Homo sapiens: one gene and its partners. The protein of the gene in region 1 purifies or fractionates together with the protein of each later gene. This does not show direct contact. Each region holds a gene or a part of one and is shown in the gene's direction. Other genes may lie near its edges. The genes, in order: NCK2, ARHGEF7, ABI1, ASAP1, ARHGEF6, CYFIP1 and CYFIP2.

The links.
Region 2: the proteins of NCK2 (region 1) and ARHGEF7 purify together in Homo sapiens (affinity purification with mass spectrometry; 5 studies listed by BioGRID and IntAct, with this or other methods). This does not show direct contact.
Region 3: the proteins of NCK2 (region 1) and ABI1 purify together in Homo sapiens (affinity purification with mass spectrometry; 5 studies listed by BioGRID and IntAct, with this or other methods). This does not show direct contact.
Region 4: the proteins of NCK2 (region 1) and ASAP1 purify together in Homo sapiens (affinity purification with mass spectrometry; 4 studies listed by BioGRID and IntAct, with this or other methods). This does not show direct contact.
Region 5: the proteins of NCK2 (region 1) and ARHGEF6 purify together in Homo sapiens (affinity purification with mass spectrometry; 4 studies listed by BioGRID and IntAct, with this or other methods). This does not show direct contact.
Region 6: the proteins of NCK2 (region 1) and CYFIP1 purify together in Homo sapiens (affinity purification with mass spectrometry; 4 studies listed by BioGRID and IntAct, with this or other methods). This does not show direct contact.
Region 7: the proteins of NCK2 (region 1) and CYFIP2 purify together in Homo sapiens (affinity purification with mass spectrometry; 4 studies listed by BioGRID and IntAct, with this or other methods). This does not show direct contact.

The regions. Positions count from the first base shown.
Region 1 is NC_000002.12:105,884,412-105,887,911, forward strand, and holds part of NCK2 (cytoplasmic protein NCK2), read left to right. Parts: intron 1-3,500. UniProt on the Homo sapiens protein: Adapter protein which associates with tyrosine-phosphorylated growth factor receptors or their cellular substrates. Maintains low levels of EIF2S1 phosphorylation by promoting its dephosphorylation by PP1.
Region 2 is NC_000013.11:111,272,310-111,275,809, forward strand, and holds part of ARHGEF7 (rho guanine nucleotide exchange factor 7), read left to right. Parts: intron 1-1,504; coding exon 1,505-1,643; intron 1,644-2,421; coding exon 2,422-2,481; intron 2,482-3,222; coding exon 3,223-3,369; intron 3,370-3,500. UniProt on the Homo sapiens protein: Acts as a RAC1 guanine nucleotide exchange factor (GEF) and can induce membrane ruffling. Functions in cell migration, attachment and cell spreading. Promotes targeting of RAC1 to focal adhesions. May function as a positive regulator of apoptosis.
Region 3 is NC_000010.11:26,850,959-26,854,458, reverse strand, and holds part of ABI1 (abl interactor 1), read left to right. Parts: intron 1-3,500. UniProt on the Homo sapiens protein: May act in negative regulation of cell growth and transformation by interacting with nonreceptor tyrosine kinases ABL1 and/or ABL2. May play a role in regulation of EGF-induced Erk pathway activation. Involved in cytoskeletal reorganization and EGFR signaling.
Region 4 is NC_000008.11:130,051,604-130,055,674, reverse strand, and holds the end of ASAP1 (arf-GAP with SH3 domain, ANK repeat and PH domain-containing protein 1), read left to right. Parts: intron 1-869; coding exon 870-944; 3' UTR 945-3,571; downstream 3,572-4,071. UniProt on the Homo sapiens protein: Possesses phosphatidylinositol 4,5-bisphosphate-dependent GTPase-activating protein activity for ARF1 (ADP ribosylation factor 1) and ARF5 and a lesser activity towards ARF6.
Region 5 is NC_000023.11:136,665,933-136,669,432, reverse strand, and holds part of ARHGEF6 (rho guanine nucleotide exchange factor 6), read left to right. Parts: intron 1-1,263; coding exon 1,264-1,404; 3' UTR 1,405-3,500. UniProt on the Homo sapiens protein: Acts as a RAC1 guanine nucleotide exchange factor (GEF).
Region 6 is NC_000015.10:22,917,869-22,921,368, reverse strand, and holds part of CYFIP1 (cytoplasmic FMR1-interacting protein 1), read left to right. Parts: intron 1-2,510; coding exon 2,511-2,677; intron 2,678-3,433; coding exon 3,434-3,500. UniProt on the Homo sapiens protein: Component of the CYFIP1-EIF4E-FMR1 complex which binds to the mRNA cap and mediates translational repression. In the CYFIP1-EIF4E-FMR1 complex this subunit is an adapter between EIF4E and FMR1.
Region 7 is NC_000005.10:157,321,623-157,325,122, forward strand, and holds part of CYFIP2 (cytoplasmic FMR1-interacting protein 2), read left to right. Parts: intron 1-1,319; coding exon of another isoform or gene 1,320-1,394; intron 1,395-2,298; coding exon 2,299-2,452; intron 2,453-3,500. UniProt on the Homo sapiens protein: Involved in T-cell adhesion and p53/TP53-dependent induction of apoptosis. Does not bind RNA. As component of the WAVE1 complex, required for BDNF-NTRK2 endocytic trafficking and signaling from early endosomes.

The DNA.
Region 1 (3,500 bases):
CCTCCCTGCAGGACTCAGTCAGGCATCTTTATTTAATTTCCTTTTTTTCTTGCAGTCTTTGGGCCTGGGCCTTTAATTGAGGTTATCACATGAGGCCTGGCTTCTGGATAAGCACAGCTGTTTTTTTTGGAATGGATCTTCAATAAAATATCCTGAGTGATTGCAGTGTAAATGAGCTAGACCCTTGCTTGACGATATTGAGGGGTGCGTATTTCAGGGAAGACAAACATTGCCACATGCTACACTATCCACTATCAGTAAGTGCTGGGTATTTCAGAAGTATCTGTTGGATATGTTAGATGAATCAGTGAACCAACAAACGAACGAACCTCTTGGACCCTCTTTCCTGTCCTGAACTTCAGTACCTACTGCTTGTCCTTCCATTTCTTCCTCCTCCCTCGCTCTCCTCTCTCATCTACAATTGTCATTTATCCTTAGCAGCTAAAGGTGATGCATTGTTGTTGCTTATTCTCCATATTTCGTTATCATACCTTCACCTGTGAGCCATACCTGCTTAAATCCAGAAAACTCAGAAATCCTACTCACCCTGTGTGTGTCCATTATAAATCCTTTTATATTACATTTTGTCCACATTGATTCTATGGATGTGGCTAGAAAGCTGTACTTAAAATGAACAGTAACCCTTTACTGGGTTTCTGGTAAACTGTACAAGTTGTCAATATTTTATTTTCTTAATTGCTGCATCTCCCATCCTTGTAAAGCTTGTTCAGAAAATGACAGATCACAACTAGGATATGGTTGGAAAAGGTGCAGAGCTGGCCTGCAAGTGCGGGAGGCCATTTTCCTCTGTAAGATTTTAGTTCCCGAAGATATCATGTATTTATTATGTCCTGCAATAGTATTAGATACTAATATTTTTTGTCATACAGTACTTTTTTTTCCAGTAGAGAAAAACTGTCTCGCTAAGGATAATTTAATGCACATATTTGTTTCATTTCTCTTTTTTAAAATATATGAAAAGTATTTGGCTGGGAAATAAAATAGAATAGCTCCTTTCTGTATTTTTAAAGTTATAATATTTCTTAAAGAAATTATAACTTTTACCCAAAACTCTATTTTCAGGCAATTTCATCATTCCATTTCTCTAAATAATGATTCTCTAACTGTATGTAGTGTGTATCAGAATTGCCTTGAAGCTTGTTAAAACAAATTGCTGGGTCCTACCTGAAATGGTACTGATTCAGGAGGTCTGGGGCCCAAGAATTTGCATTTCTATTAATAGCACGTTTCTTGGTGGTGATGCTGCTGCTTTTGGGACCACACTTTGAAAACCCTTGATCCCTATGATGCATTCTTAGTGGTTTTATATATTCTTGCAGCTGTTATTAAAACCATTTCTGCATAATACTACATTTCCATGAATTATAAAAATATTGTCATAAAGCTGAACTTCATTTAGAACTGAAGCTTTTGTTGAGTGGGATTTATCTCTTGAAGTATATTTCTGTTGAGTTTTTTGGGGGGCTTTTTTGTGTTTTTGTTTGTTTGTTTTTTACTGTTTAGAGTTTGAAAATAAACGTGCTGTATTTGCTGTGTTTCTGCTGATGAATTAGGAGGAGGTAGATTGTCAGAGCAATGTGAAAGCTGCTTCCAGGGTTTCATGGTTAGGCTCCGTGATCCATGGTGTTTCTTCATAAATGAGTTAATGTTAAGATGACTTAACCTTAGGTTGCTGTGAGCAGTGCCTGTAGGCATCTTTCCAGTTTCAAAGATAACAAGTTATTTTTAATTGCCAGGCTTTTTGCCCAGTACCAAATGGAAGTTTTAAGCCTGGATTTTTGTAATAGTTCTAATTTTAAGCATATTTAACTCTTGAAGATGGAAAGGCCTGCAAGATCATGCAGTACAGGCTGTTATCTGGAAGTTTAGTGCTCATCACCTGATTCTGATTCTCAAATGGGCCAGAGCCCTTGAAGACTCTGCCTTCTCACTCTGGCTGGCTCTTCAATGCTGACCTTTAAAACAGACAACATCCAGCATCACCAGCAAACTTGCTAGAATGCAGATTGCCCCAGCTTGCTGACTTCGAATCTCTGGGGTAGGGCTCTGCAACCTTGGTTTGAAGAAGCCCTCTGAGTCCTTTTTTTGTTCCAAATCCTGAGAACCTATGAACTCCTGAATAATTCTGATGCGCCAATTTGAGAACCACTACGTTGTGGAGTATGCACTTGATTCAAGCCCTTTTGCATACTGTTGTGTAATATGGTAAAATTCTGACTTAAATGTATCACTCAGTCACATCAGGTATGACACTATGGAAAGACAAAGAATAACAAGGACAATATTCTACAGGTCTATATGGTGAGGTATTACATGTGACTTTAGGAAATACATTTGGGGATAGGGAGGGCTAACCACACACATGCATACTAACTGGAAAGTGGACAGGGAACGCTCCGTTTGCCTAGATTAGGTAGATGGGACTTGGACAGCTGCTCTGTAGTTGATGATTGACTTTTCATTTATGTAAATAAGATTACTTCCAAAGTTAATGAGATGAATATTTGAACATGTCAGTGTGGATTGGCTTCAGGCCTGTGGAGTAAATATTTTATAGAGTGAACATTGATAGGAGAATAGGAAAAGCTGGTGAGACTCTTCACACTTGGGGCAAGGAAGAGATAATCTGATGTAAAAACAAAGAACATAGGGTCAACTGACAGCTAGCAGCATAAGTATAGGCAGGAGTAATTTTTATTAAAAGAAGGCTACCTTAGACAACTAGGGCAGGTGACCAAATAGAATGGTAAAACTGAAAGGCAGTTTTTCTGAGATAAAAACAGAGAAACTATTAATCAGTGGATCACGATTTGCCTCTAACCCATTTGTTCTCACTTTTGGGAGGTAAATGAACCACTTCTGTGGACAGAAGAGTGCCTTCTGTAAAGAAGTAAAAGGGGAAAAACATGTCTTTACCAAAAGAAAAGAATGATACAACTTGTGATAAGAAACCAACAGGGTGACCTCTCTCTGGGGGTAGAAGGAGATGTGTAGATTATTGATGCTTGGAGACTTCAGCGTGGCTGGAGATCAGTCCAGGGTCTGTGTGGAAGGCCTGGTGAATCACACAAAGGGCATTTCTACCCTCATCATTTCATAAAGTCCAAAGTGAAAGATAAGGAGAAGTTTTAAGGTTTAAAGAACCAAAAGTACCTGGAGCAAGGCCCCTCCCTCCCGTTTCCTCATGACTATTGTGCTTAGAAGAAAATCGCATTAATACATAAGCTTTCAGGAATGGAGGAGGAAATAAAGGATATTAAAGTCTGTCCTCGGCATTCATTTTTTTCCTTCTATGAGAAAACAATGATTAAATCTTGAGAGAGGGAGAGGCGTATCTGATCAGGACATCTGTTTTATAAAACTGCAAAGGTGCTTTTCAGCAAGTATTTGAGGCAATGGATCAAGCTGGCAAAGCCATAGAGATGGGATCAAAGAGTGTGCTCTCTACTGTTCTTTTCTAAAAGTACCCACTTATCGCG
Region 2 (3,500 bases), on another chromosome or scaffold:
AACACTGTCTGTCTTTTCCCCGGGAGCCCTTGATGGTTCTGGTGTCCCCGAGACCTCTGGCAGTAGCCAGCTTGGCTGGGGTGGTGCGGTGGGAGGCTCCTGTGAGACCAGAACCGGAAATTGGCTTGTTTCTCAGTTTTGCTGTTAGGATTTTCATGTTTATTTTAGGACATCGTTTACATAATGAGGATATAAAAGTATCTTTTCCTTTTAAGGGAAAACCTCTAGACTAGGAAAATTTGTTCCTAGGATTTGTGCCATGGGTATCATTTGAACCAAGCTCTGCTGACTAGAGACCCCTATCTTCTAGGATGGGGCGTGGTGATGGGGCGGGGGTCACCTGGGTCTCCTGGATGGGATGTGGTGACTGAGAAGTCATCCTGGTCTGGACCTGGCATCGGCTGCCAGCGCTGGTGCTGCCTCCCCTCCTTTCTGTGGGCTGTACACTGTCAGATGTGTGGACTGATGGCACATGCAATTTGAGGGACAGCAGACCCAGGGCCTGACAGAGACCTCAGAGATCGCCAGTGAAGGGGTGTTGCGGTCAGGTGACTGTCAGCCTTAACAAACGTGTGGGTGAAGAGCTGGACCCCCCACAGAAGCCTGCCCGTGTCCTCTGCCACAGCCATGGGAACTCTGAGGACAAAGATGACACACATGAGGACCCACTGTAGGGAAAGATAGGCGAGGCACTGTGAAGGGGATGGTTGAAGAGGAATACAGAAAGTTCTAAAACTTGTTTCTGACTCTTTAATTTTGGGATATGCACTGTTTCTATGTCCATACACAGGGACACCTTCCTTCCTTACGTGTTGTGAGGATTGAATGTAACAATGCTTTTGAAGTTCTAAAGCGTAAATCAACATTCGCTGTCTGCACACAGGGACCCCTTTCTTCCTCACGTATTGTGAGGATTAAACTTAAAGCTTTTGAAGTTCTGAAGCCTAAATCAGCGTTTGCTCTCTTCTCTTGCTGCTTCTCGTGCTCCTCACCCCAAGAGCCATTGCCTACTCCCAGGCTGAGTGCTGGCAGCACATAGGTGGGGCCTGCTCGCTGGACGAACTCGCATCTGGGGATGACTACCATCAGTGTGCTCTAGCTCTTTACCGGAGCAGCTCGGTCCTTGTTCTACCACCTTGAGACTCTGAGATTATTGGAATCCATTCTGGCTCTGAGTGTGCATGTTTCCATTGGATATGTCTGCATGGCACTGATGTGCTGGAGGACCTCGCCATCAGTAGGATCTCATGGAGACCCACATGTCCTGTGCTGTGTATAGTTATTGTTGCTCATATGAGAGCAGGAACGGGACCCCTTAGGGATGGGAGTCCCCTTTGGCATTTCCAGATAAGCAGCGCAGATTTGGGATAAAAGCTGGAGCCTTCCAGATGTTAAAAGCAACACTTATGTTTCATAAATTCTGGCTGTTGCTCATGGAGATGAGAGAGCCACCATTGTCTCTCATTGCTAACCACGAGTGTCTCTCTTGCCACTTGCTGCCCAGTGAGGAGTTGGGGGAGTTCATGGAGACCAAAGGTGCCAGCAGCCCTGGGATTCTCGTGCTGACCACGGGCCTGAGCAAACCCTTCATGCGCCTGGATAAATACCCTACGCTGCTCAAAGAGCTCGAGAGACACATGGAGGTACTGCGCTTTCATTCTCTTACTTGGAGTCCTTACCAAGGGTTAGTGGCATGGTCAGACTTACTGTGAAAGAAAGTATTATTCATGATTTATTTTAGAAGCCAGAACCAACAGAGTTTACAAAGAGTTTTGTTAAATATTATGTTTTTCTCCTTATTCCAGCTCTATTAGAAAACATTTACCCCTTATCTCTCTTTTACCCACTGCTGCTGATTGAAAAGTTTCCAAAAGCTGAAACATGAGAACTGATTTTCAGATAGTGTTGAGATGTCTTACCTGGATCATCCAGCTACAAACAATGTGTGCATAGGTTATAGGGTAATACTGTACTAATCATTTGATGAATGATTGTGCTCTTTTAATTTTGAATAACAGGTTGCAGCCTAGCAGAAATTTGGGTTGAAGTTACTCTCTTGGCTTGAGTTGGCAAACCTTTTCTATAAGGGGGCAGACTGTAGGGTCTTCTTCACGGCTACACAGCTCTGCCATTTTAGATACTGTATGTGAGCCGTGGCAGTGTTCCAATAAGACTTTATTGATGAAGCAAGTGTTGGCTTCCCCACCCCTGCTGCTTGTGACTGTTCTCTTCCAACTTATATTTCCCCAAAGTCTAATGGCTTCGTGATTTGCTGAAAGACTGACACTTTAATGCTGAGGGAAAAAGGGAATGTTAAGGGTTGAAAAGTGTTAGAAAAGTTTCAAGCTGGTCTGTAGAAAGTACCTTTTTAAGAAAAGCTTTTCCTTATGAAAGCTAATTGTATGTTTCTTTTACTCAAAGGATTATCATACAGATAGACAAGATATTCAAAAATCCATGGCTGCCTTCAAAAACCTTTCAGTAAGTGATTAAGCATATTGTTTTCCCCCCCAGACATTATTGTGACAAATGAATGTAAAAGAATTATCAACTGAAAAAGTCAAATGATTAAAAAATGACTTGTGCTGACATGAAAGAAAAACAGAGTCGGCATTCTGTGGCTGGTAAACTCCTTTTAGTGGACTATGATAGAATAATTATTTAAATTTTTTAAAGTCACTGTGTAATTGATGTTAGATCTACTTTAAAATTGTTTAAAACATTTTTTTACCCTTCATTCATGTTGTCTTTAATGATTTATTGCAAAACAGAACAATGGTGGTTCCATTTTCTCTGCTGTTGTGTTGTCTTACCAACTGCGTTTTGGAAATATATGGCCTTATTTTATAGCACAAGTTATACTTTCTGTTTCTTCTTTTCAGTCTTCCATATTGGCAAACACGAACAAAACCAGAATGAAAATACAGTTCTTGTCCTGTCCACATTTCTTTTTTGTACAAGTGGCAAAATGTGCTCTATCTTTCTAAAATAATACTTAGTATTCCAGAGCAGTTGTGTGTGTTGCTTCTCTTAACTTGGTTTCATACTTCTAAGCAAATACTTTCAATTCCCTATAATTAAGCAAATCGCTCAATAAATTATCTGTCTGAAGAAGTAAGATATAAAGCAATAATTGTCTTAAGGATGATACAAAGCAATGTGGCCGGAACTTAACATTCTGAAAGTTTATGTCTGTTAACAGTGTTGTTCTGTGTCTGTCAGGCCCAATGTCAAGAAGTCCGGAAGAGGAAAGAGCTTGAGCTGCAGATCCTGACGGAAGCCATCCGGAACTGGGAGGGCGATGACATTAAAACTCTGGGCAACGTCACTTACATGTCCCAGGTCCTGATTCAGTGTGCCGGAAGTGAGGTACTGCTGCCCACATGCACGCACCAGGGTTTCTGTCCCACTCTTAGGAGCTCATAGCAGAAGATTTTAAAGGCATCTCAAGCGATGAAAAATGTCTAATAGAAGCTCTATCTTATAATTTGTGAGCTACT
Region 3 (3,500 bases), on another chromosome or scaffold:
TTTTTTCTTCTTTCACACCAAGTCTGTGAACCCAGCATATCAGTTCTTATGAAAGTCCATATCACATATATCAGTTCTTGCTAATACTCTCAAGGTGAGAATACTGCATATTTTTAGGACTATATAATATTTGCAAATTTGTATTAAAACTAATGTCTTCTCTTTTTTCTTTTGTGGCTTTAATACTAATAACAGCTTTATATGTAGTACTTCTGACTAGTCCTGGTCTGTTTAGAACCTCAATTTTAGCATGCTTCTGTCTTTTGGAGAGTTTTCTTAGAAAATTATTGAAATAATCTCTTAGGATACTTGCAAATTTTTCTTGTGTGCTTCTGCGTTCTCCAGTTGATTCTGATAGCTCAGGAATGCTAATAGTCCTTGTGGAAAGGAGATATTTAGGCAACTGGGGATCTGCTGTGTGACCATTTACAGTAACCTTATTTATATTCAGTGAAATTATGTCCTAAGAATTAAGACAGTTAACAGTCAAAAATATGTTAGCCAGAAAGGAAGAGTGTTCATATTGGGACAAGAGGTTGGATCAAACTCTAGGATATTGTGCAGATATAAATCTATAAAACCCATGAAAATAGTGTTGGCATGAAAAGTAAGGTAAAGGCTGGGCGTGGTGGCTCACACCTGTAATCCCAGCACTTTGGGAGGATGAGGCGGGCGGATCATGAGGTCAGAAGATCGAGACCATCCTGGCTAACATGGTGAAACCCCGTCTCTACTAAAAATACAGAAACAAAGTTAGCTGGGTGTGGTGGCGGGCATCTGTAGTCCCAGCTACCTGGGAGGCTGAGGCGGCTGAATGGCGTGAACCCGGAGGCGGAGCTTGCAGTGAGCTGAGATTGTGCCACTGAACTCCAGCCTGGCAGCCTGGGTGACAGAGCGAGACTCCGTCTCAAAAAAAAAAAAAAAAAAAAGTAAGGTAAAATTGATAGTTAATGCTAATTTTGAAGCATTTACAAAGTTTTGATTGGGAGGTTGTATATTTTTCCTAATATCATCTTGTGTTGATTGTAATATTTATTGAAATTATGGTTTGATTGTAGAAGAAATAATAGTCAAACCCCAGAACTACAAACTTTGTAGATCTTAATATTTACTAAGACATCATGTTAGAAAAAAGGGATTTTTTTTAAAAAAAAAAAAGGGCATTGTTGAGAAATAAGACAATAGGAAAGTAGCAATTACTGGATTTTTTTTTTTTTTTTTTTTGAGATGGAGTCTCGCTCTGTCACCCAGGCCGGAGTGCAGTGGTGTGATCTCGGCTCACTGCAAGCTCCGCCTCCCGGGTTCACGCCATCGATTTTGTTTTTAAAGGAAATAGTTGACGTGGTCATTTTAACAGTAAATATCCATCCCTTAGAATGGAGACTTGAGATTTGACTACTGTGTGTCAATCCAAATAAGTACTTTTAACTTTGGATCTACTAATTTTCTCCATCTACAAAATAAAACTTTCTCAGACATAGTTGGTAGTGAACCCGTGTTTATGAAGAAAATCTGTTAATGAGGGACCACACCCAGCTAATTTTTTGTAATTTTTGTAGAGATGGGATTTTGCCGTGTTGCCCAGGTTTGTCCTGAACTCCTGGACTCAAGTGATCCTCCTGCCTTGGCCTCCCGAAGTGTTGGGATTACAGGCGTGAGCCACCATGCCCGACCAGCAAAAACACATTTTTGAAAAACTTCAATTTACCTTTAATTCACTCATTTCCTGAATGCTTTATCATTAATTTTTATTAATAATTTCTACATTCTTTGACAAAATTGTATTTGGTACATTTTATTTTTCCTTCTATGGAAAGGCAAGTGTGGCACTTTTTCAGAACCCATGGGAAATTAATGCCCTCCACTTAAACATCAGAAATGTATATATTATATCATATAGAAAAAGATGTTTCCTACTACGTCAAATATTAGCAACTTAAGAGTTGTAACAACAGATGCTTATTTTATTTTATTTTTTTGAGACAGAGTTTCGTTCTTGTTGCCCAGGCTAGAGTATAATGGCACAATCTCTGCTCACCTCAACTTCTGCCTCCTGGGTTCAATCAATTCTCCTGCCTCGGCATCCTGAGTAGCTGGGATTACAGGGATGCGCCACCACGCCTGGCTAATTTTGTATTTTTAGTAGAGACAGGGTTTCTCCATGTTGGTCAGGCTGGTCTCGAACTCCCAACCTCAGGTGATCCACCCATCTCGGCCTCCCAAAATGTTGGGATTACAGGCGTGAGCCACCGTGCTCGGCCCAGATTCTTATTTTAATAAGGCAATATAGAGAAAAGAGTACATGGGTGCCATTTTATTTTTAATTTTTATGAGGGTTGGGGTCTCCTATGTTCCCCAGCTGTCCTCGTAATTCTGGGGTCAAGCGATCCTCCCATCTCAGCCTCCTGAGTAGCTGGGTCTACAGACTTTCCCCCCAAGCCCCTCCCACCATGCTCAGCTCATGGGTGTCATTTTAAAATTGATTATTACTCAAAAGTGCGCCCTCAACATAGTTAGGCAATCCCACTAGATAACCTCGCCAGTTTGTTCTTCCACTTACCACAAACTATTTTAATTTTTTTCTCCCTTTTTGAAATCTGACCCTTTCCTTTCTTGTCTTTTGGTTCATAGAGAAAATAGACTTCATCATATAAGACCTATAATTTCTTACCACTGCATCTCCAAACCTGCTATCCTCGCTCACCCTATTCTACTCCTTTTTATAATGGAAGAGAGACATTCTTCCTCCTAGCTAAAGTCCTAACTGTGGGTCATATCCTGTCCTGCCTTTTTGTAAACCTTATGCTCCTGATAAGTTTATACCTCCTCTCTTTACTGAATTTGTGCTTTCACAATTGAAACATTTCAGATCTCTGTCGTACTTGAAAACTCTTTTGACTTCATATACTCATCTAGTAACTGACCTATCTCTCCTTTATGGATTAACTAGTTTTATTACACTATTGTCAGCTAGCTGCAGTGGCTCAAGTCTGTAATCCCAGTTACTTGGGAGGTTGAGGTGGGAGGATTGCTTGAGCCCAGGAGTTTGAGATCAGCTTGGGTAACAAAGCAAGACCCTGTCTCAAAAAAAAAAAAAAAAAAAAAAAAAATTAGCTTAGTCTGTAGTCCCAGCTACTTGGCAGACTGAGGTGGGAGGATCACTTGAGCCCAGGAGTTTGAGGCTGCAGTGAGCTATGGTTGCGCCACTGCACTCCAGCCTGGGCAACAGTGAAACCCTGTCTTTTAAAATAAAAACAAAAAACCAAGCATTTTCCTCCATCTCCCACTTTTCATTCACTCTTTAACCTGTTCTATTTCCACTGCTCTCTGAATGCTAATAACCTCCATGTTGCAAAATTCTTTCCCATTTTAGTTCTCATGTGCTTTTTTTCTCTGCATCATTTTGCATGGTTGGTTTTTCCTACTTTTTTTGAGAAGTTAATCCTTTGGCTTCTCTGATAGACCTTTCTTTCATGCTTTTCCTATTACTCTCTGGCCCA
Region 4 (4,071 bases), on another chromosome or scaffold:
GGTAACTGGCTTACAGGCCAATGCAGCAGACAATAAAATTGCCATTCGCCACCATCAGTCTCAAACTTTCACAGTATTCTTCCTCCACGGTAACCAGAAAACAAGTGATAGTACATAGCAGCCTTTTTTTTTTTTTTTTACTGGCTAGAACAACACTTTACTCACAAAGAGAAGAGACAGAACAAGATTAGCTTTGATTTGAGTATGGTACCCCGCAGTGGGTCTTGCCAGGCAGCTGACACAGCTTAATGGTCTGTATGCATCCTACCTGGGCTGTGGGCAAAGAAACCCCTTCCTTCCCAACTAGGAATAGGTAATAGTACTGGGATTGGCCAGGTGCCATAGCAGCCTTTTCATTTGCTTTTTTTTTTTTTTTTCTTTTTTAAATGTATCACACAAGCCTGGAGAGAAGGGATTTTCTTTAGCCCCACTTAACAGAGAAAAGGCTTAGCAAGGTTTGTGTGAGGTCACCCAGCTGTAAAGGCAGCCAGGCGCCCTGGTTCAGAGCAAGGACTCTAGAGCCCCACGCCTGTGGGAGAGCATGTCACCTCTCTGGGCCACTGTCCCTTCATCTGTAAAATGAAGATTGTAAACTGTATAAGAAATATCCACCTCAGGGGGTTGCTGTGTGGGTACAGCAAGATCCATGTAGAATGCTGAGCATATTGGAAGTTCTGTCGTTTGCTCTTTCCTTATGTAGTTTATGACCGTTAAGCTCTCTGTAGTTCACTAAAGGGTGGGAAGAAGGGTAAGCCTGGGATTCCACCGCCAGGTCTGTGGGCAGACTAGGCTGGGCTCTTACCCACTGGGTTTGTCGTGGGGCCACTGCCTGCTGCCTCCATCCTGACCACTCTCTTTTCTCCCTGCAGATTGGCCACATCGAAGGACAGCCTGAAAGGAAGGGGGTCTTTCCAGTGTCCTTTGTTCATATCCTGTCTGACTAGCAAAACGCAGAACCTTAAGATTGTCCACATCCTTCATGCAAGACTGCTGCCTTCATGTAACCCTGGGCACAGTGTGTATATAGCTGCTGTTACAGAGTAAGAAACTCATGGAAGGGCCACCTCAGGAGGGGGATATAATGTGTGTTGTAAATATCCTGTGGTTTTCTGCCTTCACCAGTATGAGGGTAGCCTCGGACCCGGCGCGCCTTACTGGTTTGCCAAAGCCATCCTTGGCATCTAGCACTTACATCTCTCTATGCTGTTCTACAAGCAAACAAACAAAAATAGGAGTATAGGAACTGCTGGCTTTGCAAATAGAAGTGGTCTCCAGCAACCGTTGAAAGGCATAGAATTGACTCTGTTCCTAACAATGCAGTATTCTCAATTGTGTTACTGAAAATGCAACATTAGCAAAGAGGTGGGTTCTGTTTTCCAGGTGAAACTTTTAGCTCCATGACAGACCAGCCTGTAGTTATCTGTGTACACAGTTTACAGCTACAAAAACCTACTTTGGTATTTATTACAGAAAAGTGCTCAGTTAAATGTAAGTGTTATTCCTTCAGCAAAATATTCACTGACCCAAAACTCTTTATGGCATTTTACAATGCACACAGCCTCATGCAAGTTTAGACAAGTGGATTTATACTGTCTTATGAGTGCCCGCCCCTGATATATTACCTCATTATGCAAAAATAACATATCTTTCATGACTATTTTGACAAAAGTTTAAAACACATATGAAGTTCAAATTTCAGGAACCAAGGACTGCCAGAAAATATTAGCCTCTACATTACGCATGCATTTAGAAGCTTACCTGAAATCTGCCTTTTATAAAGGAATAGTATGGATAAGTGGAATTGTACATTTTTTAAACTTGATTGCCATTAAAGCAGAAATTATAAGGTTGCAACAATATTTGTTTCTAATCACTGGCTTTCTCAAGAGTATGGATTGACATATTGTGTTATGAATGCACATCTCTCAGATGTGTTGAAGCATCCATTGCATCCATTTTTTATTATTTTCTTAGTTTTGTTCTTGGACAAATTTAAACTTTTAAAAGATTATTCAAGATGAATTTAAAAGTCAACCCTTCACACAGTTTCCCTACTGTATGTAGAATCCAGGTGCTGAAACCAAGTGTTTCTTTTCCCATGCTCTTTGTTAAACCCCAATTATAGATAATTTTTCCAGTCTTAAGCTCTGTCCACCTTCAAGTCAATTCATAACCAAGTTTTTGAACGCTGCTATGAATTGCACTGTGAAAAGCACTCTTCCCTCTCAGTTTTCTTTTCATCCCAGCCATGTTTATCAGATCCTTAAGAACATTGTATTTCAGTCTTTTACATCAGTCTGAATTTTGGAAAAGAATGCAATAGTTGTACTCCACAGTCAGTGGAACTGTTCCCTGAGTCCGAGGCTCATGTGTCATTCTGGCACTACATTTGCTTAAATTGCTATTTTGGCAACAGCACAGAAAACTAATATTTTTAAGCAGAGAATCTTGGCAATGAGTGAGAGATGTTAATTTCACAGAAGCACAACTCCCAACCCAACCCTTAGGAAAAGCCCTCTTCCATCGTTACAGTGCTCAGTGAATATTAATTTAGTTCTGCTTAAGTGGTTGCTATACAAACTTTGAATAGCCACCTAATAAATAAACCTTGCATGACAAACCTGCAAAATATTTTATCAGCTGTTATTGGAAAGTGATTTTAAGCAATTGCTTCCTCAGTGTCAGGGCACATGTGAATTTCCACACCAAACAGAGCATGAGGAACCAGTTGACATGCTGGGTTGTGACTGGCAGCTTTAGCAGCCTCGGTACTGAAGCCACACCAGTGTCCGGATGGAAGTCTGCATCTGAGGTTGCTCAGTGTCCCGGTCATTCATTTACACATTTTAACTTGCATTAAAGAGCTGTTCTTTTCTGTGGCCTAGACTCTTTTCACTGATCTCAAAATAAACTGGTTTTTTTCAAAAAAAAAAAAAAAACAAAAACAAAAAAAAAACACAAAAGCTGCATGTCTAAAATTACATGGAGTTAGTGTCTATTCTTTTTCCCCTTTTGCAGCAACTTACACAGCATTTTTAACACCTTTTTTTTCTAGTTTTTTTGTTCGGTTTTGTTTTCCATCAGGAATTTGAGTTCTCTCTAACCCAGCTTACTGTGGGACATAGGAAAACTCAGTAGAAATACCTTTGGTGATCTTGTTGAGTTTAAGTCTGATCTTGATCTTAAACTCAGTAAGCCACTATCTGCAATTTTGTACATTATATAGTATTTTGAAGATATGGAACCTTATGAAAAAAAAATAGCAAATTAGTTCTTTTTCCCCCAGAGGGGAAAGTTATGTTCTGCAAATAGTGTGTGTCTTATTTTACTGTTGAACAGCAATTGCTATTTATTTTTTTATTGCCTAGAACTTCAACATGTTGTATAGGAATCCTGTAGTGCCACTAGTTAAATGCCGAATTCTCATCTGGATGTTACCATCAAACATCAGTACACTTGTCATTTCACATGTGTTTAATGTGACAGTTTTTCAGTACTGTATGTGTTAATTTCTACTTTTTTTAATATTTAAAATTGCTTTTAAATAAACATATTCTCAGTTGATCCCAAACTTCTGAAATCAGGCCATTTTGTGAGTTGTTCACTACCCTGCTGACAGGAGAGAATCAAGGCTTCCTCTGGCTGTGCTTTCGGGTATATAGATGACACAGGTCACTCCAACCCTTGTCAGAGATCACTCTGGATACATAAAAATATGTGGCACTTGCCCCGGCTTACAAACTGTGGGCCTTCGGCCCCTTTCTGTCCTCCACCTTCCGCATTCCACCTCCACCACGTCCACTTGTGCGCCCGTTGATGTGAACAGGGCAAGAAGAGGGTGGAGGGGCACGAGGCTTACATGTTGTCGTGTGGACAGCACTTCTGTCACGTAGCTGTCACAACTAGTGCTGCCACGCAGTGGAGCAGACCTGGCCCAGGCACTCTGCCTGCATTAACCCCTGAATCCTTAGCAAGCCCAGGAGAAGCGTGAGCCCCTCAGCTTTACAGAGCTGACAAATGAGGCTCAGAGGCATTCATTCACACACAGGAGACATGTGGCTTGTAAATCAC
Region 5 (3,500 bases), on another chromosome or scaffold:
TCTTGCCTCACGCTGCTCATGCTTTCAGGGAAGGCCTAGGAGCAAGGTAGCGAGGGGGGATTTTTGTTTTCCTTGTGTCATCAAGGTAGGTTTTGTTGATTTTATCATGTAAGCCTTGAATTTAAATTTCCGAGGCTTGCTTGTATTTCTATGTAGTAGTTCACAATAGAGTCCCAAAGTTAGTTACAACTTTCCTGTTCTCTGACATCCATAAACAGACTTTAAGAAAAGACTAGTCATTCATGAGTGTGTAAGTGTAAAGAGAACCATTCATCATGGTTTGTGGGCTTTTCTGCCGATGTGGCCTAGTGCTCCGTGATGCACACTGTGCCTTGTGTGTGAGGACTGACTGTATCTGGTGACAGAGTGAAGGATGGATGCGAGGGGAGAGAGACCAGGGACTAGAAGACCACTTAGGAGGTTCTTACAAAACTCAGGGTGAAACCTGTCAGAGTCCTGAACTGAGGCAGGGTAATGAGGCTGGGGAGGAGGAAACGAATGTAAAGGATGGCATACTGCAGAGTTTGAACCTATGGACGAGGATAATATGATTTTGAGATTAAGAAAGAGCCAGGGATTAAAGATGAAGCTTCTTCCCAGGGTGTCTGGTTGCATATGGTGGTGCCCCTTCATGGAGATCAGTAATCACAGGAGGAGGAGAAGTTTGGGGTGTTGAGAGAGATACTGAGTTCACTTTAGGACCTGATGAGTTTAAGGTGCTTGTGACATATCTAGGTGGAAATACCAAGCTGCTGCCAGGTAATCTCAGGTAAGTGAGAGGATCACTTAAGCCCGGGAGTTTGAGGCTGCAGTGAGCCATGATTACACTGCACTCCAGCCTGGCAATAGAGTGAGACCCCATCTCTTAAATAAAATAATAATAATAATAATAATAATAAGAAGAAGAAGAAGAAGAAGAAATACCAGGCTGACAGTTGAGATTGTGGACCCGATTCTCAGGAGACAAGGTCAGTACCAGAGATATTTGGGAGTCCCCTTAATAGACACTTGGGTTGAAACAGAAGTGACACTAAGTGAAAAGCAAGTTAAATTAGAAGAGGATCAGGGCAGGGAAGAAGAATCCAAAAGGTTTCCCAGAGACAGGCAGGAGAATCGACAGGCTGCTTTGTCATAGATGCTGAGGGAGGGAAGGTCGAGGAAAGAAAGAGAGTCAGTGATGAAAGCTGCCCCGAGGATGAGCAGGAGGAGCCCTTGGAAGGGCCCCCCTCTGTTTGATAATCAACAAATCTTTCCCCATCATAGGAAAATAAAAGAATGAAGCAATGCCTGGAAGAAGAACTGAAATCAAGAAGGGACCTAGAAAAGCTGGTGCGGAGGCTTTTGAAGCAAACAGATGAGTGTATTCGAGGCGAGTCCAGTAGCAAGACCTCAATTCTTCCATAACCATCACTGTGCCACTGGGTGGAGTGTGCCTTCAGGGCATCTTGAAATGTCCCGCTGAATGATTTGACTCAGTTTGCTCACTTCTTTGGCTTTTGTTTTGTGTTTGAGTCTCTCTCTCTCTCTCCCTCTCTCTTCTCTTTCTCTCCCCGCTGTGTGCATATGTGTGTGCGTGCACGTGCGCGCTTGGGCATTTGCTGTTGTTTGGTTATTGGTTGGTTGTTCATTTTTTTTTTCAACAGGTGAAAAAGCAGGAAGTGGTGGTAGAGATGGCCTCAGAGTCTTTTCCATTCAGTAAGAAAGAGAAAGGGAATGCAGGCCAGTTACTTAAAAGGTCTTCAGATTGCCTTCAGTTCACAGTGCCTCTGCAACAGCCATTGCCCTCAGGTCACATTCTTTGGGCTGGCTGCCCTTGCAAAGCAGCTGGCCAAGGCTTATTAAATGTGAACCCAACTTTTCCCCAGGGCTTTCCTGTACCTGCAAGCCTCTTAGTACTTAATTTACCGAAGGCAAATCTTCCAGACTATGGCTTGAGTAGGATGAAAGACAAACACATCTGCCCAATGATCCAGCTGCCCTTCCTTAGACCATCACATGCCTCCCCTCAATCACAGGTTTTAAAATTACTGCCCTATGTTGTCTATAAGACCAAGAAAACTGTAGTACCCTTATTCCTTTTGTGTCATGTAAATTGTAACTCAGGGGGGCAGAAGCTCTGGTCACCCACACCAACACCAAATCCATCAGCAAATTCTACTGGACAATCCTCCCTTTTAGTAGCAGAGTTGACCGCCTTTTCCCATTGCATGATAGGTTTCTTTCCCTCATTCTGCCTAGTGTGTAAGTTTTCTATTTCCCCAGTACTTTTAGCCAACCTTACCAAGTGGTGTGTAAACTAGTATGTATGTGCTTTGCTTACTTTTTAAAAAAATGTAGTTAGACTGTGAGGAGTTACTTTATGTACGTTGCATATTCAAACTGTGATGTTTTATCCTTCAAAACAATCTGCATTAAGAAGATATTGTGCCCTACTAGACAGCTTTCATTCACTTTATTACTCTCTCATATATGCTGTGAGAAGTTGTAATATTAATTGGCCTCTTTGGGTGGGACTCTAAGCAGTATTTGCAGAAATATGCTTCTGGTCCAACTTGTACATCCAGAACAAAAGGGCCCCTCTAGTAGCTGTGTGCTGGATTATTCAGGACTGATTAACTCAAGTTGCTCATTGAATCACATCATCCACTTTATCCCAGAAACTAGAACTGTGAGAAACCAGGTTTAGAAGACAGTCACAGAACAGCACACATCCAAATTCAGCGCCATTGAAAGTTGGCCTAAGGCTCAGTGCCACTCACCCCTCCCTCCCCAAAAGACAAGAGAAATTTGGCCAGATGGGGAAGGTCACTGGAAATTGAGGCCAAAGGGCTGATCAGAATTGCCTTTATAATATATTTGATGGATGCCTATAAATGTGGGTTTTGCAAATATTGTTTAAAAACCAAACTTGAAGCCAGGCATGGTGGCCCACACCTGTGGTCCCAGCTACTCAGGAGGCTGAGGTGGGAGGATCATTTGAGCCCAGGAGGTCAAGGCTGCAGTGAGCTGTGATGACACCACTGCACTCCAACCTAGGTAACAGAGAGACACCTCTGTCTCTGAAAAAACAAAACTTGAAGTTTGAAACCCCCAGCTTGCTGAGGAGCCCTTTTTATTTTTGGTACTGAGAGTCTCAAGGTCCCATAGCTACATGGTACAGGGCTGTTGTCTGCTTGCTGCACAGCAGAAATTACACCATCCACAGGAAATGGACTATTTTTGCAGTCCAACATCAGCCAACCACACACAGCCGTGTTTGGAAGCTGAAGAGTAAAGAAATTTCTAGGAATGGCTGTTGTTCTGTTTTTTAGCACAGCCATTTAGATATAACATCCTTCACTTAAAAATTAAAAACATCAGTACTACCACCACCACCAACAACATCAACACAGATCTTCACATCTGCCCATTCTGTGGTTAGTCAATGGCTTGCAATAAATGTGCAAACTGCATCTATAGGAAACATTTTTGTGATTACGGAATACTTTAGTTGATTGCTG
Region 6 (3,500 bases), on another chromosome or scaffold:
TGAGACAGAGTCTCGCTGTGTCACCTAGGCTGGAGTGTAGTGACGCCATCTCAGCTCACTGCAACCTCCACCTCCCAGTTTCAAGCAGTTCTCCTGCCTTAGCCTCCCAAGTAGCTGGGACTACAGGTGTGCACCACCACACCAGGCTAATTTTTGTATTTTTAGTAGAGACGGGGTTTCACCATATTGGCCAGGCTGGTCTCGAACTCCTGACCTTGTGATCCGCCTGCCTCGGCCTCCCAAAATACTGGGATTACAGGCATGAGCCACTGCGCCCGGGTGCTTTTAGTTATTTTTCTTCGATTTTGGGGGGGTTTATTTTGCTGTTTTCTATAAATTAGTGATGAATGTTTGATAAGTATTATGATTTTTATCCTTTTTAGTTTTCTAATGCGTGCATCTAAAGCTCTCAGTTTGCTGTTAACTTGCCTTTTCCTTCTTCCTGTAAGTGTGAATATGTAGGATTGTTATGTTCACTTAAATGGGTTTTTCCTCGTTTGGTTTTTTAAATAGAACTTTTCTTTTTTGTTGATTGGAAAAACAATATAAAATCATCAGTTTTCCAAAGTAAGCATGCTGAAAACACAAGCATGGCATTAGGAAGGCACAGTGCCTGCGGCGCCATCACAGAGATGGCGCTGAGCAGCTGGGTGCGTTTTCTTCCAGACTTTTTCCTTTCTAAAATTTTCATTATTTTAATTGCATATAGACCATGAGTCTTACATGAAAGCAGTCTATTTGGAAATTCTTTACGTTATAGAAGGATGAATTAAAAGCAGACTGTCAACTTTTCCACCTGAAAATTTCATGAAAAAGAAAAGCACCAAAATCATATAAGCCATGTTTCAAGTACTTGTCAGACACGTCTTCATTTACCCATGAATCAGGCTGTTTATAAAGCCATAATGAGGAACTCAAAAGGTGTGAATAAAACCAGAAAGTGATAGAGGGAGACTGTGTGAAGCCTTGGGGAAACACATTTGTGTTCTTGCTAAGTGAACTTCAAACCAACAGATTTAATAAAAGTAGGAAGATGCCTAGCCAAGCATGGTAGTGCATGCTTATAGAACTAGTTACCCAGGAGGCTGAGGCAGGAGGATCGATTGACCCTGGGAGTTCAAGGCTGCAGTGAGCTATGATCATGCCACTGCACTCCAGTCTGGGCAACAGAGTGAGACCCTGTCTCAAAAAAAAAAAAAAAAAAAAAAAGCTGCCTTAATTTTGAATCTGTCAAATACTTAATTTCAAAAGGTTTTTTTTGTTTGTTTGTTTTTTGTTTTTTTTTATTACTGTGGACTGAAGACCATTTTCAGATGTTGAAGTAGGGTTTTTGTTTTGTTTTGTTTTGAGACAGGGTCTCGCTCTGTCACCCAGGCTGGAGAGCAGTGGCATAGTCATGGCTCACTGCAGCCTCGAACTCCTAGGCTCAAGTGATCCTCCTGGCTTAGCCTCCCGAGTAGCTGGGACTATAGGCTCATGCCACCACACCTGGCTAATTTTTAAATTTTTTGTAGAGATGGGGTCTGGCCATTTTGTTCGGGCTGATCTTGAACTCTGGTCTCAAGTGATTCTCCCGCCTCAGCCTCCCAAAGTGCCAGGATTATGGGTGTGAGCCACTGTGCCTGGCCAAAGAAGGGTTGTTAAGATTTTCCCAAATGTATTAGTCTTAGGTACAGCGTTCTAGTTAAAAGATAAAAAGAAGTGAATTATGTTTCACTGGTGCTATTAAATGTTCCACTTTGGTGTCTTATATGTCAGACATCCACACGGCAGGGTGGACTTGGGGTAAGTGTGTCTTGCTCTGCCTCACTTGCTGCTTTCAGAGAGATTTCTAGGCCTCACATAGCTATCATGAAGTTGGCTGTAGAAATATTTATAAACGGCAAAAGCCGTAAGAAAGCTCATGCAATTGTAAAGGTCATACTTGGTTTGTGACCTTCAATTGTTTATTCAGAAAGTAATAAAGCACACTGTCATGACAAAATTACTGTCTGGAAACAGGGAAATAATGAGCCCTGGCACCATTTTTCTGTCCCAGGAATTCCTTTGGAAGCTCTTTGTCATGTAATTATGTTCCATCAGAGTCTTCCAGGCTTTTTCTGTGAATGGTAGTTCACTGCGCCTTTGTTGTGAACAATATGGGATTTGGACTACAACCTCTTGTAACTTCTTTTTCTAGTAATATCATGCCTGCTTTCCTGAGTCTTTTTCTTCTTTCCTATTTGAATTCCATCACAGGAGGGTGTGCTGGGGTGGATGCATGTGTGTTTCGAGTCAGATGCATCCCTGTCCTCCAGGTGCTCATGGTCTGATGGGGAGTCAGATGCGGGCACAGTTCCATTGACTATGGCTTTGGAGAAGACGTTTTGGGGCAGGGCAGCTGCAGGGCACGAACGCGGGAGGGCGTAAGGTGCTGTGGGCGAGGAGGAGCAGCCCCCGGCATGTGCCAGGCAGAGGAGGCTTGGTGCCATCCCTAAGAAGGGCCGTCCCTGTTGCTGTGTCCCCCGCAGGTGATCGCCATGATCAAAGGCCTGCAGGTGCTGATGGGCAGGATGGAGAGCGTGTTCAACCACGCCATCCGGCACACCGTCTATGCCGCACTGCAGGACTTCTCCCAGGTGACCCTTAGGGAGCCGCTGCGGCAGGCCATCAAGAAGAAGAAGAACGTCATCCAGAGGTCAGCCTTCCCCACGCCCTGTGCCCGCTGTGCCCACACGTCCTCGGATGAACTTGGATTCAAACAACAGGAGCGTTAAATTCTCAAAAATGATTTCAATATATTTATCTTCAACCTTCAGATGCCCTCTTGGTGAATTACCTCTAAAAGTAATGCATGGGTCCAATTATTAACCCAAACAATGGACAGTAAGTCAGCTGCCGAGTGTCTAGGGAGTCTGAGGACCCCGGGACAAGGTGCATTTATCCCAGGCTCGCGGTGCCTGTGGTTCATGCATGGTGCCTTATGGGGGTCTCTGCACGGTGGAGCCCTGTTGGTGATGAGGCTGTGTTCCAAACCAGTCGAGAGACATGGCCAGGCTCTGGTCATGTGGGTGACTTCACATTCCTGTTGGTTACTGGGGACAGCCAGCTGCGGGCAGGCGGGGCCCAGCTCTGCTCCGTGCGGAGGCTGTGTTCTGCCCTCTCCCTGCCCACAGCATGACTCAGAGCCACCTCACTGCTGCCCTGGGCTAACAGATGCGAACTGGAGCTCAGGGCAGTCTTCTGGGGGTAGTAATACTCTCCAGAAGGCAGACTCCTTTTTAACTTTCCTGTTGAGCTGGTCCATTACCACATCCCTCCATGGCCCCCAGAGTAATTTGTATTTTCATGGGGGCTGTTCTGAGAGCCTTGTAGTTGGGTGAGGAGATGGTGTGATTGTGAGGCTGGAGGTCTCGGCCTCTGGGCCTTGCTGATCACTTGGTGGGGTGTTCAGTGTCCTGCAGGCCATCAGGAAGACCGTGTGTGACTGGGAGACGGGGCATGAGCCCTTCAATGACCCA
Region 7 (3,500 bases), on another chromosome or scaffold:
TCACAGGCCTCACTTCCCATGACCTTTAAGCCTCTCTCTGTTCTCAGTCACCCAAGATGGACCATCTGAGGCCCACCCCCGACCCTTCTCCCTGTGTGTGCGTCTGTGTCTGTGCTGGGGGCTGGGGCAGGGGAGAGGTGGGTTCTCGGCAGGGTCATCTTAACTCCCCTTGGCTTCACAGCCCTCTGCTAGTTTGCACCAATCTCACCGGCTGGTTGTAGAACGCCCCAAGGAAGCGTCTGCAAACAGTTCTGTGTAATATCAAGGGTTGAGGTCCGGGAGACACTGAGCAGGGCTTTCAAGTGTTTCTGTAAATTTTAAGACATGAGTGAGCAAGAGACAGACAAGGCACAAAAGACACTGGAAAGGAGGAGGAGGGGACTTAACAGGCAGAGAGAAAAGGAGAGGAGAGGAAGGAGTATTTGTGTAGATAATGTGAGAGGGGTGGGTCACCAGCAGTAAATCCCGCCTCACCCCCAACCTCTACCAGGTCATGCTAGGTGGCACAGACATGTTGAATAGACTCGTAGACAACCAGAGCTGGGAGCGCTATTAGAGAAACCTAGGCCCTCCCCCTCTCTTGCGGATGGGGAAACTGAGGTCTAGAGAGGGGAAGTGACTTGTCCAAGTCACAAGGTGAGTCCCAGGTGGAGGTGGGACAAGAACCCAGGTCTCCTGACACCCACCCAGGGCTCTGGTACGGTCTTCAGGACACAGTAGACATGGGCATCTTGCATAGTTGGGATAGAGACTGTTTTGGTGAATTAAATGCTCTGTTAAGTAAAAGTACGTGGGAAAAAAGTTCACCTTCTTATGGGTGAAACCAGTTTTCAGAGAATTAGAGTTGGATATCAACTGGACAGCACCCACAACAGATTAGACTTGGATTCTTCCTTTGAGGACTTGAGAGGCCGTCATGAGAAGAGTGCTTCTCGGCTCCTAGGGATGGTGAGACAGGCCCTCCAACAGGGCTGCAGATGGGGGACTGTCTGAGGCACTGACGGCCACTGTGGCTGCTTTCCCACAAAGGAAGCCCTGTGGCAGGGATGGTGGGTCACACGTTTCTGTGGCTGCTCTACCCGCATCAGTGCCAGGCATGTGATGGGGGAGATCCCAGGGAAGCTCCAGAGGCAGCGAAGACGAACGCGGTTGCTGGGAGGTTGGAGTGTCTCAGAGGTGGCCCCCGGCAGTCGCGGCGGCTTTCCCACCGTATACAATACCTCTTGCTTTTCTCTCTCTCTCTCTCTTTCTCTCTCTCCCTCTTCCCTGTCTCTCCTGCCCTCCCATTCCCTCTTCCTTCTCTCCTATCTATGTCTTAGGCCTGCCAGTGGTCCCCGAGGGCTTTGTTTCACCCCACTGGTGGCACACAGGGCCGAAGAGGCTGCCGATCCCTGGTATCACACCGCCTGGCTGGGTTGGTTTGGGTACCCTTCTCGAGGAGGCAGCAGGAATGGACTAGCCTGGCTCCTCAAGGCCCCTTCCAGCCCTAAGATTCACAGACAAATGATGTGGAGAGATCTAGATTAGCAAAGAGAACCACCCCACCGCACTTGCATCCTTTGCACTTAAGGCACCCTGTAAGCGGGAGTTAATTGTCTAGTAGCCTCCTGTGTAAGTACCAATGTTAACCCGCCTTCCACCCTGAACTTCAGCAGGCTGTGCAGTGCAGCTGATGCCACCAAGGGGGCGCCATCGCTCAGCCATGGGGTCAAAACGCTGAGGGTCAGGAACAGGTGTGGGAGGGGGTTCGTTCTGATCTTATCCCATTTCTCAGTTCCTCAGAATGTTAGTGCTGAAAGGGACTGGTGTGAGAAGGCATCTGGTCCAACCCCCTCATGTTACATGAGACAACTGAGGCCCAGAGTGGGGGCTTTGTTGCCTAAGGTCACACAGCAAATCAGCAGCAGTGCCTGGCCTTGAACCCCGGTCTTTTGACTCCCAGTCCAGTGCTCCACCCATGGCATCTGTGGCCCTCTGGGAAAGCAGGGAGTGACTCCAGGGTGACACGTAATGAGGTTCTCCTCTGATATACACGCCCTTGGCCAAGCAGAGCAGGGAGCTACCTGGTGTGGCCAGGTCCACTGGCCCAGGGATGCCACGGGGCCCGGGTTGGCCATGAAGGTTTTCACAGTTCCACATTTATTTCTCAAACCTTAAACTGGTGCTTCCTTAGGACAGTGCTTTTTAAGAGCAGACATCTGCAGAAAAAAAAAAATACATAAATACAACATGAAGCAACCTTTTTCCCCGGGGTAGAGGGCCAGCTTCTGACCTTCTCATCTTGCTTTCTTTTTCAAGCTGTACATGGTGCGGACCATGCTTGAATCACTCATTGCAGACAAAAGCGGCTCCAAGAAGACCCTGAGGAGCAGCCTGGATGGACCCATTGTCCTCGCCATAGAGGACTTTCACAAACAGTCCTTCTTCTTCACACATCTGCTCAACATCAGTGGTGAGCTGCATCCCATCCCTGCTAAGGCATGGGAGGAGGGGATGAGGGCTCTCAGAGCCGCTAAGACCACCAAGCCAGGCATTGCAAAGGGACGTGACCGTTGACCCTAAGGGGCACATATCACCACCAAGGAAAAAACACATACACTTTCCAGTGGGCTTTTGGAGCTAGGAAAGGCCAGGTTCAACTCAGCTGTTCTGACTTAGCTAAATTTGTCCAGGAGATACTTGTGGCTAATTTGTCATAAAGTCCTTAGTAGAGCGGGATCAAAAACAAGAATACGTACATACAGACACACGGATGCTAGACTTTTGCTACTCAGCCGCAACCAAGCGCTAATTAGTACTTGCTGCTGCCAGCAGGGGAGGCTCTCGAGCTGCATCCCAGTCCTGTGTTCTTCACACTTCCTCTCCTTTTAGTAAGATGTATGTCCAGAGCAGAGGAAGAGTAGTATCTCAGGAACATGAGTCTTCATATGTCTGCTGGCATTGACAAGAGTGATTGTAACAAACAGTACAAACTTCTCCATTAGAGAGTAGCCCGGGAAGGGCCTTCAAGGTCTCTAAACTGTATGGGATCTGGCAATTATCACACGCGAGGAGTCAAGGAGCCACAATCCAGTTGAAAGTGGGCACTCGGGGGCCTGTCTTGACACTGTGTTTGTATAATGAACACACTTTTTTTTTTTTTTTTGAGACGGAGTCTTGCTCTGTTGCCCAGGTTGGAGTGCAGTGGCACTATCTCAGCTCACCGCAACCTCCGCTTCCCAGGTTCAGGCTGGAGTGCAGTCGTGTGATCTCAGCTCACCGCAACCTCTGCCACCCAGGTTCAAAGAATCCTTCTGCTTCAGCCTCCCGAGTAGCTGGGATTACAGACATGCACCACTGTGCCCGGCTAATTATTTATTTTTTTAATTTATTATTATTATTATTTTTTGGTATTTTTAGTAGAGACGGGGTTTCGCCATGTTGGCCAGGCTGGGCTCAAACTCCTGACCTCAAGTGATCTGCCTGCCTCAGCCTCCCAAAGTGCTGGTATTATAGGCATG